Linked DNA regions of Homo sapiens. The protein of the gene in region 2 purifies or fractionates together with the protein of the main gene of each other region. This does not show direct contact. Each region holds a gene or a part of one and is shown on either strand. Other genes may lie near its edges.

Region 1 (3,500 bases), on a different chromosome or scaffold from region 2:
ATGTTTCACACAGCTTCATGTGTTTTGAGTGAGACATGTCCTTGGACGCACACTGGACATGATTGCTGAAGCCAGGTCAGTAGAAACCATTGAAGTTTATTGGCGGTCACAATGCTTACACTGTATGCAGCAAACACCCTTACAAGTCTATCCGCAACCTGATCACGCAAGAAAGGATTCATCACACAGTCGCCAGAGGAGAAGGAAAAAAAATTAACAGGCTTGTTTCTGGGGGTAGAGGAAAGAAATAAAAATAAAACCTAATTGATGAGTGTCCCGTGGGCAAGAGCTGAACTAGAGATGTGTACAACTAGCAGCAACAATTGTGGAAAAAGTACAAGGCAAATAGCTGTCTCCATTAATTTTCCTCTGTAGGTTATTATTTTTTTTAATATTCAAAACATTTATTATGGTTTTCATTTTATAAAAATGTATATTTTTTAAGGGATGGGAGAATGTTAAATACTTCATGCTAGGTAGACCTTGTTATTAAGAACCCTTCCACTGTAGTAACTTCCTCCAGTTCATACATTCATGAGTGCAGGGTACATATATAAATATCCACACGCATACATCCACACACACTGCCTCGAGGGCTGGGGAAGACTAAAATTTATTGGCCACACACAGCAGGGCCTCTGGTGGACTCACCCACATTGCTCCCAGGAGAGCAGTGGGCTCACTTCCTTCTCTCTGGTCTCTGCCTTCACACAGACCAAGAACCCTACAACACGTCGTTAAATCCAACTTTTAAAAGCAAGAGGCATCTGTCTGAGGATGAGGGTAAGCAAAGTAGGAAAGAGGGTGGAGATAAGAACACCAAACACTTTTAGCTGGAGTTATTTATCACTGCAAGGGGCTAGGGACCCAGGGCAGAATCTACACGGTCCAAGGGGAGGGACGGTGTTCTGGCATGGCTTAGAGTTCCTAATAACAAGGGTTAATACAGTAACAGGAATTGATCATTTCTGGGTGAGGACAGGGCAATACGAAAAAATATACATTTGGAATTTTAGCTTTTTTTTTGCCTCTCTACTGTGTCACTAAATATATCTCTGCACTCTCACACATCCTTGTCCAGTAAAGCTTCAGGCCACCAGAATACACATTTTCTTCACTCGCATACACAACCCCTCACATCAGCATTGGTGCACTAGACTCTGTAAAAATTTTTCAGTCACACTTTTTGTTTTTAAACTTGAGTCAATATAAACCTTGTTCAAAATGTTATGAAAAAATGTACATGTTTATACAAGGCAGGTTGTGGCAGGACACTAGGGGTTCTCCCCACTTGGGTGGCCCCAGGAGGAGAGGCTGGAGTCTCAGTTTGTATCTCTTATCTCCTCCCACCACCCTTCCCACCCAGTCCCCCAGGAACCAGCAGCGCCCTGCCCCCTAGTGAGTGTACTCACACCCCTATTCCCTGGGGAAGCAGCTAGTTGACCTTTGCCATTTTCCCCACACCCCTGGAGAAAAGAGCCAGGATCAGCCAGGCCCTCTCCCTTGCAATTGTTCGCCCCTCTGGGCCAAACCAAAGGGACGCTGCTCTGTACAGGTAGAGTCCAAGGAGGTGTCAGCTCATCATGTCATTGCTATTCACGCCATAAGTGGAATTCTTCATTGAGTCGTTGACTTCTCGACGGAATGCTGACAGGTTCTGGGTGAACCTGCAGAGAGGATGCATGTGGGTTGGGGGAGGAGAGTGGGGGGGAAAGGTATTTGCCTTTTTTTTTTTTTTTTTTAAAGCATGGGAAGTAGAATGTATGAATTGATGGGTTCTGTTTCAAAGATCAGTTAATTTCAGTCTTAAGACTCTAAGAGAAAAGTTGGCTTAGAGATCTGGTCAAATCTGGGGCCCTGAGGGCTACCTTGGGCTCATGGCAGCACAAAAGAAATCTCACTGACAGAAGTAGGAAGTTGCCCTCACACGTGAGGGCAGTAAGCCAATGAAGCCATCTCATTTCTTAATGCAGCAAGACCAGGTGGTGCAGTGCTATGCTGTCCAATAGGGCGGCTGCTAACCACATATGGCTACCGTGCCCCTGAATTATGGCCAGTGTGACTGAGAACATGAATCCAAATTAAATACAATTTAACATTCAGCTCCCCAACTGCATCTTAATTTTAAATTAAAATGCCTTGTTTTAAATTAATTAAAATTAAATAAAATTTAAAAGTTAATTGCAAAGCCCAGATACTCAATGCAGTTACTGGAAAGTCCCTAGGTGTGTTTGAAACAATCTGGGTATTACAGGAATCTACTTTGTCAACTGTAAATTTATGAAATCTAAATACAGATCAAGTATTTCTGATGAAAACGTATGAACTGAGATATGCTGTTAAATGTAAAGTACACAGGATTTTGGAAATGTAGTACAAAAAGAATGTGAAAACCCACAATTTTAAAATACTGATTACACACTGATACAATATTTTAGATACAATGGGTTAAATAAAATATATTATTAAAATGAATTTTGCCTGTTTAACATGGCTCACTTTTCTATTGCATTGCATTGCTTTAGATGGCCTCCAAACACAGATGTCAAAGACTTTAAAGCAACTGCCTGTTTCGTTGATTTGAAAAATAGCAATTGTCTGAGATTTCTAGGCAGGACGCTTTATACTCACCTGTCTCTGTTTTTCGTAAGAAGATTTCGCTCGATGCCTTCCATCAGGTTCTCAAAACACAGGTGCATGGCCTGCTGCTTCTCCGGTGGCTGGCTGTTCACAATACTGTTTCTTAGGTCAGAAAAATACTGTGGGGCAAGGAGTGGAACAGAAGGTTAGAGAAGCAGGGGAAGGCAGATTAGCCCTCCGTCATCTGCAGGGTTGAAGAATGTTCTTCTCTAAGGAGGAATGGAATGTCTACTAAAATTGGACCCTTAAAAAAGAAATTCAGGCAAGCACTTGTGGGATAATATGGCTTCATCCTACTAAGAATATCAAGAATTTTTAAATTGTAAAGCACTTTAAAAGGGTCATCTTATCCAGACCTTTCTTTTACCAGAATCTCAAGACTTGTTTATAGCAGAGCTAGAACTAGAACTTAGGTCTTAGGTCCTCTGATACCCAGGTACATTATTTCCTTGAAAGGTTTCTCTTACTGCCTAGGGGAAACACTCCTTTATCCTGTGTCTGTGAGCTACCACACATGCTGACTTCTAACAGTTAAATGATTATGTGATACTGAAAGCACAAATGGGACTTGCTCAGTAAATGACCCATTTTCCCTGTTTCACCACCGTGGGGTGTTTCTATACACATTTCTCCCAGGGCTTGGTGATACCAAGTGCGTGGTTGCCACTGCTTCTGGGTTGGCACCAGGGAGCTGGCTCTCTCACCTTTTCATTAAGCAATATCAAGCCAAGTAGTGGTCGGGACATAGACCACTGGTTCCTACAGTCTTCAAAGATGATGATGTTCAGCACCGTGGACAGCATCTGAAAATGGAATGGAGAATTTCAGGCAGTGACCTAATGTATTGCTACCCAAGATAA
Region 2 (2,936 bases):
ACCTCACAACGGGGAGGGGCTGTGGGAGAGGCTGACGGCCACATCCTGCAGGTGACCCAGCTAAGGGTGTTCGTGTCAGTGCTGGACGTCAATGACAATGCCCCCGAATTCCCCTTTAAGACCAAGGAGATAAGGGTGGAGGAGGTGAGGCCAGCGAAGCCGCGGGGACTGGGCACGGGGGTGTGGGAGCCCAGGGTGAGGGCAGGAGGTGAGTGGTGGCCGGGGGCTCAACCACAGTGGGGGTCCACAGGGGCCAAGAGTGTGGCCGGACCAAGCCCCTCTCCCTCCCCAGGACACGAAAGTGAACTCCACCGTCATCCCCGAGACGCAACTGCAGGCTGAGGACCGCGACAAGGACGACATTCTGTTCTACACCCTCCAGGAAATGACAGCAGTCAGTGCCGCCCACCCTGCCCCAGCACGAGCCCCTCGCCTCTGACACCCACAGCCGCCCTCGCCCTCCAAGGCTCTTAGGCTCTGTCCTCCCTGACCCTCCCCAGGGTGCCAGTGACTACTTCTCCCTGGTGAGTGTAAACCGTCCCGCCCTGAGGCTGGACCGGCCCCTGGACTTCTACGAGCGGCCGAACATGACCTTCTGGCTGCTGGTGCGGGTGAGCAGGTCACCCCAGCCCCGAGTCCCACACACTTGAGGCCCCCCGGCCCCAGCTGCTCCCAGGCCTGATCCAGCACAGCCGTCTGTTGCAGGACACTCCGGGGGAGAATGTGGAACCCAGCCACACTGCCACCGCCACACTAGTGCTGAACGTGGTGCCCGCCGACCTGCGGCCCCCGTGGTTCCTGCCCTGCACCTTCTCAGATGGCTACGTCTGCATTCAAGCTCAGTACCACGGGGCTGTCCCCACGGGGCACATACTGGTAATGGGGAGGGAGGGGCAGTGCACGGGGCAGGGCCTTCTAGGCAGGCTGGACACAGGGACGGCCAGGATCAGGAGAGGAAGGGCGGGGTCGGGGTCAGGGGGTGGGGCCGATTTCGGTCGTGATTTTGAAACAAATGCAGACTCTCCTTGTAAACCAACCCTTCCCATCTTGAGCGGTGAGGGAGCAAACCCTGAACACACAGGGAGGAGCGTGGGCCCCAGAGCCAGGCGGTCTCAGGGGCCTGGGGAGGTGGGCTGGGGCCCTGGAGCTCTTAAGGGATGCTGACATCTCTGCCCTGCTCACAGTCACCACTGGGCCCACACAGGCTGTCTGCAAACCTTCCTGGCACCAAGGCACCTGGGGCCACCAAACAGTACATGGGAGGCAGAAATGCAGACCCCGGGAGCCCCCACTTCCTAAATGTTTGCTTACCCGTCAAGACAAGCCTTGTGCAAATGGGACTCAGTATCTTTGGGCCACTGGACTCATTCATTAGTAAGGGACCCACAGGGGTGTTACTGATTGTGATGCTGGGACAAGGGACTGTCCTAGGCAGGCAGGGACGCCCGGCCACCAGCGGGACTGGGCCCCTCCTCAGCCAACCCTGCCCTTGATGGGGAGTCAGAGGGGCCAGGCTGGGGCCATCCACCCCAGCCCCACGACGTGCCCTCCCTTCCGCCATCCCTGAAGCCATCTCCCCTCGTCCTGCGTCCCGGACCCATCTACGCTGAGGACGGAGACCGCGGCATCAACCAGCCCATCATCTACAGCATCTTTAGGGGTGAGTGGGGCCCAGCCCTCAACAATGCCCTGTACCCCCTCTGTCCCTGTCTCCATCCCCACCTTGGGCAGAGCTGGCTGGGTCCCTGGGCCTCAGGGGGCCGGGGCTGAGCACTTCCATCATCCTCCCAGGAAACGTGAATGGTACATTCATCATCCACCCAGACTCGGGCAACCTCACCGTGGCCAGGAGTGTCCCCAGCCCCATGACCTTCCTTCTGCTGGTGAAGGTGAGGTGGGCACCTGCATGGGGGGCAGGGCAGAGGGGGAAGGGTGGAAGGTAGGGCGGGGGGTCAGGGCTGGGGGGCCGGGGCAGGGCCCCCGCCAAGTCTGCACCTGCCTTTCCTGAGCCCCAGCCTTCAGCGCCAGCTCCACCTTCAACCCCACTAGTCACTGCTGCCTCCCCCGCCTCCAGGGCCAACAGGCCGACCTTGCCCGCTACTCAGTGACCCAGGTCACCGTGGAGGCTGTGGCTGCGGCCGGGAGCCCGCCCCGCTTCCCCCAGAGACTGTATCGTGGCACCGTGGCGCGTGGCGCTGGAGCGGGCGTTGTGGTCAAGGATGCAGCTGCCCCTTCTCAGCCTCTGAGGATCCAGGCTCAGGACCCGGAGTTCTCGGTAGAGAGTGCATCCAAGGCCTCCCCTCTGTGGGTGGGTCAGGGCTGTACGTGGGAGGCAGCCTGGCCGGGGACTCAATGAGACCCTGTCCAGGACCTCAACTCGGCCATCACATATCGAATTACCAACCACTCACACTTCCGGATGGAGGGAGAGGTTGTGCTGACCACCACCACACTGGCACAGGCGGGAGCCTTCTACGCAGAGGTGCGGGGCAGGGCAGGCGGGCATCTCCAAGGGTGTGGGGCTTAAAGATGTGTCTAGGAGGGACAAGCCCCTTCCTGCCCCAGGTTGAGGCCCACAACACGGTGACCTCTGGCACCGCAACCACAGTCATTGAGATACAAGTTTCCGAACAGGAGCCCCCCTCCACAGGTAAGCCCCCCTCCACAGGTGAGCCCCCAGGGTTCTCCAAATAAGCCCCTTCGGTGGCTCCTTTCCCGCGGTAGGTGTGCAAGGGGCGGGCAGAGGCAAGCCCAAGCACTGTTCCCGGCCCCCAGATGTCCCCCCATCCCCAGAGGCTGGAGGAACAACTGGGCCCTGGACCAGCACCACTTCCGAGGTCCCCAGACCCCCTGAGCCCTCCCAGGGACCCTCCACGACCAGCTCTGGGGGAGGCACAGGCCCTCATCCACCCTCTGGCACAACTCTGAGGCCACCA
Region 3 (3,500 bases), on a different chromosome or scaffold from region 2:
TGTAGCTAAAGGATGTTGTTATCAGATAGTTTTATTTATAAAGTAGTTTTAAGGTGAAAAGCTAAGGACATGCTAAGCAGACAGTTTCTCAAACAGAAAGGATTGCATATAATGCCAATTTGTTAGCTAATAATATATTTCTATTTTTAGGTATCCAGAATGCTACCAGGGGGACTTTTAGTTCTTGGAGTATTTATTATTACTACTTTAGAACTGGCAAATGATTTTCAAAATGCCCTGCGTAGAGTAAGTTTGATATATCGAAAATTCTTAATGAAATCAGTTATATGTTATTTTTACTGATTATGAGTATGTGTAATGATTCTAGGCATATTTACATTTGTTTTCCATAATTCTTTTTGTTGGGGTTACATTGAAAAAGCTTTTGTCACTCAATTGCTTGGATATCTTGAGTGTAAAAAATGTTTATATTTTTAAAAACTACACATTTTATTTATTATTTTTTCCATGGGTAATTTTATTCTTTATTTAGTACACTACCCAAAACAGGGCTATCATCAGCCCATATGGCATTTCATACAAATTTGAAAAAGCTATTCTTTCCTCAAGTTAAAAAGTTAAATTATTTACTTCTCAATAATAACCATGACTAATGACAGTAATTCCATGTAAATTATGCAAACAAATAATTCATTGTAAAATATTGAAAAATTCAAATGATTAATTATAATATTAAGAACTCAAAGTCACTTGGATCTAATAATTTGTTGTAAAAAAGGCATCTTTGTGGAAGTAATTCTTTTTGACAGAAAAACTACATATTTTAAAATAATCTTTATTTTAGAGGTAATTTCTGACTATTAGGAAACAAATTATAATGCTTTAAACAGTTTTTCTTATGCAATAGCAGTATTCTGTCACACCTTCCATTTAGTACCTAGTGATTACTGTAACATGAAATTAATAGGTGCTGAAATTCTTTACCTTCTTCTCAATTCTCCGGAGATCCTGAGAGTAAAACATAAACAATCAGATTATTCCTGGACACAGTATCTATCAGAAATCTCCTGTGTTTTTTGCTTAATTGCTGCACCAGAGAATTGGGTAACATAGTGTAAAAGTAAATATGAAGGTCCACATGCTGTTTTCCCTTAAACCCAAACCTAAGGTAGATTCTGTGTAGCCAGCTCTTTTAGCATTCAGGATCCACATGAACTTTTTGAAGGGTATTTCATACCCCAAAAGAGGGGGAACCTTAAAATCTTGAGACATATAAAACCCAACCCCAACAGTATCCCAGAAAAACATTTTTTAGGTAAAAAATATACAGCTGAGAACTTCAGATGTTACAGATTTTTTCAGTCTTGTAACCTGTCCTGTCAGATGTCCCAGCCTCAAGCCTTTGATATTTGCACCTAAGGGAGTAAGGGAAGAAAATGGAGATATTCTCCTCCCTGCTAAATTGTTTAACCCTCTGCCAACTTTTCCATCTTAAATAAATTTACCTTGTTTACAATTGTTCATTCTCTTTGGCATTTTGAAATTTAACCGAAATCTATGCGTATTTAATATTAATAGCATTCATTGTGCAACCTTTTTTGGCTGGTGCTGAATTGAGGGGGTTGAATGTGGGCCCAGTGCTAGAGAGATACAGCCAGGCCCACTTTCCTTGCTTTTGTATCTTTTGTTCCTAAAAAGTATATAAAACTTTAGAAATGCTTTATCTCTGACATTACTGAGTTTCAATTATCTAATTGTTTCCACTGGCTACACTGACAAACACTACAAGAAACAGCCTTATAAAACTTGTCAGTGTCACCCATTATTGTTAAGGACTTTATTCATCATATTACATTAATATTGTGTTTCCGGAAGAATTTCTTTTTATATTATGAAGAAGGTTGTGCCTCCTCTGATGATTGTTTTTAGCTTACAGACCATGTGAATTAGGTTACAGATTAGATTTCTCTCTGCACATTATTGTTAGAAAGCTTAGACCGAAATGTATTACCACCCCTTACATCAAGTATGCATTTTTATAATTCTTATTTCTGACACAAATTTATCTCACTATTCTACTTTAACTTTCAATTTGTTATTACTATATTTTATATGTTGTTATATATTGCCTTAAGTCTTGTGTGACGTTTAAATAAGAAATGCTAAATGGGTGACATGCTTGATTTCTTTAGTTAAAATCACTTATCATTTCTCATTCTAATTAAAGTCTCTGTTCTATAGTTTATATAAATTCTAGTTGCCCCAAATTAATTTTTTGTGTCCAGTTAATCTCTAATGATAGTGAATTAAATTTTTTTATTTAAACCCAATTTTTCTGTAATTTCCTAAAAGGAATTCAAAAATGTTAGTAATTAGCTCCAGTCTTTAATTTGAAGAAAAGAAAAATTAATGGTGGCACACACCTGTAGTCCCAGTTACTTGGGAAGCTGAGGTGAGAGAATCACTTGAGCCCAGGTGTTCAAGGCCAGCTTGAGCAACATAGTGAGACCCCTTCTCCAATAAATAAAGAATCATGGAATTTTAAAGCTAAATGAGAGTTGGGGACATTATAATTGCCTATTTCAACACTCATCTTTTTTTTTCATTTTACATTCAATTAGTGTGTATTTTTCTCTCTTTCAGCTAATGTTTGCTGTGGAAAAGTCTATAAATAGAAAGAGATTGTGGAATTTCACAGAGGAGGAAGTCTCAGAACGAGTGACACTTCACATTTGTGCTTCTACAAAAAAGTATCTTTTGTTCAGTTTATGGTTTAAAAGTACAAAGTACCAAAATAATATTCTTGCAAGGTTTTTTTGCTATTTATTTAAATCATCATTTAAAAAATAGGCATAGTTTTGTAAGATTTTTCTGTAAATAACATGGAATTAGAGCCACCAATAATAATAATAGCAATAATGGTTGTTAATCATGTCCCAAGGTGATAAAAAGCTTGAGATCTGTAATATGAAAGACTCAGGATTCTGAATTTTTTACCAGCTATCTGCCCTGTACATCCAAGCACAGCAGATTCCCTACAGAGATAAATGCCTAACTGATGGCTTAGGCAAAGTAATGTTTTTATTATGTTAAAGTTTTCACCTCCAGTTTCTATAGATAAGGATGTACAATTCAAAGCACAGGTGCACAGAGCTGGATGGTATAGGACATCGGAGAAATTCTTATGTCTTTGGCTAAGATGAAATGACACTAAAAGCCAGTTACACGGCCTCTTACCAGGGCAAGAGTACCTCCCAAGCAAGGGTCATCCTCACCAAAGGAGTGACACGATCCATGGACTTCCAAAGACAGAATTTTAAAAGTGACCATTCCTGCAGAAGCAGGGCTTTTTTTTTTTTTAACAACAACAAAAAAAATCTTTAGTATTTAACTGCAAAGTTTCATATACAAGCCCTTTAATCCAATAAATAGTCTCAGGTTTGACCTCATATAAAACAGTGGTACTTTTTCTTATGGAGAGTGTATATTTGAGAAGAATCTCACGAGTGCTTTGATTCTATTTATTGCAATTAGCGGGA
Region 4 (3,136 bases), on a different chromosome or scaffold from region 2:
TTTCTAAAATTGCTTCTTGAATTGCCAAATGCCACTGATCCCCTATTTCCCTAAAAGTTAATGAAAACAAAAATCAACAACCATATTCCTACTCGGTAAAAATTCTTCACTGTCTCTTACAACATATATATATTACTAGAATTGGTATAGTTTTAAAACCACATACGATTTTAATTGGTATTAAGTAAATGCTTGTTGACTAACAGGAGGTAGATTTAAAAATTACAATTCAGAAGTCTCAGCCCTCCTCCCACTTTCCAGTAAAAGAGTGCAGAGCGCTGGCCAGGCGCGGTGGCTCATGCCTGTAATCCCAGCACTTTGAGAGGCCGAGGCAGGCGGATCATGAGGTCAGGAGATCGAGACCATCCTGACTAACACGGTGAAACCCCGTCTCTACTAAAAATACAAAAAAAAAAAAAAATTAGCCAGGCGTGGTGGCAGGTGTCTGTAGTCCCAGCTACTCGGGAGGCTGAGGCAGGAGAATGGCGTGAACCTGGGAGGCAGAGCTTGCAGTGAGCCGAGATCACGCCACTGCACTCAACCCTGGGCAACAGAGTGAGACTCCGTCTCAAAAAAAAAAAAAAAAGAGTGCAGAGAGCTGAGGCAATGAAAGACTAGCCCACCGCTGCAGAATAAATGGATTGGGTCATTCCTATGTTTAAAAATCCTGTGTACTTACAGTAATTTCTGTTTTCTTTCTATTGTTAATAAGTACTTTAAATGAGTTGTGAACTTATTAAAGTTGTAAAAGTTAAATGTTAGTTATTTGAGACAGGGTCTCGCTTTGTCACCCAGGCTGGAGTGCAGTGGCGTGATCTCGGCTCACTGCAATATGTGCCTCCCAGGCTCAAACCATTCTCCCACCTCAGCCTCCCAGATAGCTGGGACTACAGGCACACACCACCAATTCTGGCTAATTTCTTTTGTATTTTTTGTAGAGACGGGGTTTTGCCACATTGCCCAGGCTGGTCTCGAACTCCTGAGTTCAAGTGATCCACCCACCTCGGCTTCCCAAAGCACTGGGATTATAGGTGTGAGCCACTGTGCCCAGCCGAATGTTATTTTCTTTAATTGTAATGATAGGTTCAAATTCCTAAAGAAAATTCTTAGTAAATACTACATTTGAGCTTCTCTTTTCCAAAATAATTGATACAGGACTAACATTTTGTACAGTCACCTTACTATAATGACAGTTTTAAGGTGTTTCTGCTGTAGTAAGGGACATTTGTCTTGCTTGTGAGACAAAGATGGCAGGAGAGAGAGGAAAGTGACTTCACTTCAAATCACAAATTTTCATCTTAGGTAATAAAATAGTGGACTTGCCAATTCCTAAGGCATGAGGTAAGATTCCCAACAGAGGTATCATCACACTACTAATTGTTTCTATCTCTGCAAAATAGAGGCGGTGTTTGTCTCTGTGTGTGTGGGGGGGGTGTGTGTGTGTGTGTGTGCGCGTGCCCACGTGCAAACACGTGTGCATACTGCTTCCTCACATTTCCAATTTTGCTGTCACTTATTTGGAATTTCATCAATGAGTGATTAGATGAGACTTTGGGGGTATTGTATACATATTGTAATTGCCACTGTTGGGACTTTTAAAACAAACAGAATTTGATCTGTACTATCACTGGATAGATAAGCAGTGCCCTCAGGAAGCTAATTCTAAGAACTATTACAGCTTATATATGAAATACTGTGAATTCTAAGGCAGTCACTTTTGACTGTGCTATTCTCTGGAAGCATATGTTGTTGGAATTATAAAGTCTGAAAAGTTCTTCAAATATTATATTGACAAGTGGAGACAGGACTTTGTAGAGAAGCAGGTATATACATCTTTGTAGGAAACTTTTTACAATTTGAGATTTGAAATTTGTAAGCAGCAGTGATTGTATCTATATTTTCTACTGAGGCAAAAATATTGACAGTCATGTATAATGACTTACACATTTAATAAAGGGTACTCTTTGTCATTGTGAGTCATTAATTTGCCTCAAGCATTTATCTATCTGCTATGACGATTCATAAGGAATACAAAGATTTATAAAAGTTTTACAAATCTTTATACATTAGTGTCCTTTGGCCAAATCTTTGCTTGGAATTTAATGAAAGAGAAAAACATAACATTTCTGTGGTAGAGATTCAGAAGAAAAACATTTTCAATTACAGACACACCATTATAAGAATATCATGCATTTTCCAGCCAAATATTCAGAATAAGAGTTACATGTACCCCTGATCATAATACTTACATAACGGGATCAAACATATTCCGAATCTTTAGACACGGTGTCAAACTATTTGGTGGTGAATTTCTTCTATCTAAATGAAATGCTACAAAAAACAAGTTAGTTTTACTATTTGACATTGTTCTAGTTTGTTGAAAGGTATTCAATCATTCAGTTCATTCAAAAAATATTCACTGCATGCTTTTACTAGGAGCCAGACCCCTGGTTAGATGTTAAGGTGAGTAAGACAGTCATTGCTATCAAAGAGTTTACAGTTTAATGGGAGAGACAGATGATAAAGAGTGTCATGTAAGAAAGTACAACTGTGATTAAGTCCTTAAAAAAAAAAGTACAAAAAGCTTTTTAAAAGTAACTTAACCTCATATGAGAAAATAAAACTTCCCTGAAAAAGTGAAATTTATGTGGGAACTGAAGAATAAAAATTAGCAGGGTGAAGAGAGGTGTGTAAAGGAAGATTTCAAGCAGAGGTGATTGCTTGTACACAGCTCCTGGGGCACGAAGGAGCAAATGTGGCTGGAGTAGAAAGAATAGAGATAAACCTACAGAAGATGTCAGATTATTTAAGATGATGTAGGCTACAAAAAAGTATTTGGGCATTATGGTAAGAGTAATAGCCACTCAACTGTTTTAAGGAGTAGAATAGGATGAGATCTGTCTTTTAAAACTACATATTTTAAAAATACATTGTTATGTGGAGACTCAGGTAAAAGCAGAAGTGAATGCAAGATGACCAGTTAGAAGGTTATTATTATATTATAGTTGTCTAAGAAGGAGAGGATAATGATGTGGGTAAGACAGGCCAACAGTGCAAGTGACAAGCGGATAGAATCAGGACATATTATGGAGTAGATATGACATGACCTGTTGAAAGGTTGGACAAAGAGGGATAA

Evidence for each region. Proteins that work in one complex are often made in the same cells at the same time.
Region 1: the proteins of CDHR5 (region 2) and XPO7 purify together in Homo sapiens (affinity purification with mass spectrometry; 2 studies listed by BioGRID and IntAct, with this or other methods). This does not show direct contact.
Region 3: the proteins of CDHR5 (region 2) and ODR4 purify together in Homo sapiens (affinity purification with mass spectrometry; one large-scale study listed by BioGRID and IntAct). This does not show direct contact.
Region 4: the proteins of CDHR5 (region 2) and LEMD3 purify together in Homo sapiens (affinity purification with mass spectrometry; 2 studies listed by BioGRID and IntAct, with this or other methods). This does not show direct contact.

What each region holds. Positions count from the first base shown.
Region 1 is NC_000008.11:22,003,162-22,006,661, reverse strand, and holds the end of XPO7 (exportin-7), read right to left. Parts: intron 3,444-3,500; coding exon 3,345-3,443; intron 2,760-3,344; coding exon 2,632-2,759; intron 1,668-2,631; coding exon 1,574-1,667; 3' UTR 77-1,573; downstream 1-76.
Region 2 is NC_000011.10:619,020-621,955, reverse strand, and holds part of CDHR5 (cadherin-related family member 5 isoform 1 precursor), read left to right. Parts: intron 1-51; coding exon 52-144; intron 145-292; coding exon 293-394; intron 395-500; coding exon 501-611; intron 612-705; coding exon 706-876; intron 877-1,569; coding exon 1,570-1,660; intron 1,661-1,791; coding exon 1,792-1,889; intron 1,890-2,074; coding exon 2,075-2,275; intron 2,276-2,368; coding exon 2,369-2,482; intron 2,483-2,565; coding exon 2,566-2,650; intron 2,651-2,775; coding exon 2,776-2,936. UniProt on the Homo sapiens protein: Intermicrovillar adhesion molecule that forms, via its extracellular domain, calcium-dependent heterophilic complexes with CDHR2 on adjacent microvilli. Thereby, controls the packing of microvilli at the apical membrane of epithelial cells.
Region 3 is NC_000001.11:186,385,838-186,389,337, forward strand, and holds part of ODR4 (protein odr-4 homolog), read left to right. Parts: intron 1-150; coding exon 151-246; intron 247-2,604; coding exon 2,605-2,711; intron 2,712-3,500. UniProt on the Homo sapiens protein: May play a role in the trafficking of a subset of G-protein coupled receptors.
Region 4 is NC_000012.12:65,242,583-65,245,718, reverse strand, and holds part of LEMD3 (inner nuclear membrane protein Man1), read right to left. Parts: intron 2,332-3,136; coding exon 2,250-2,331; intron 51-2,249; coding exon 1-50.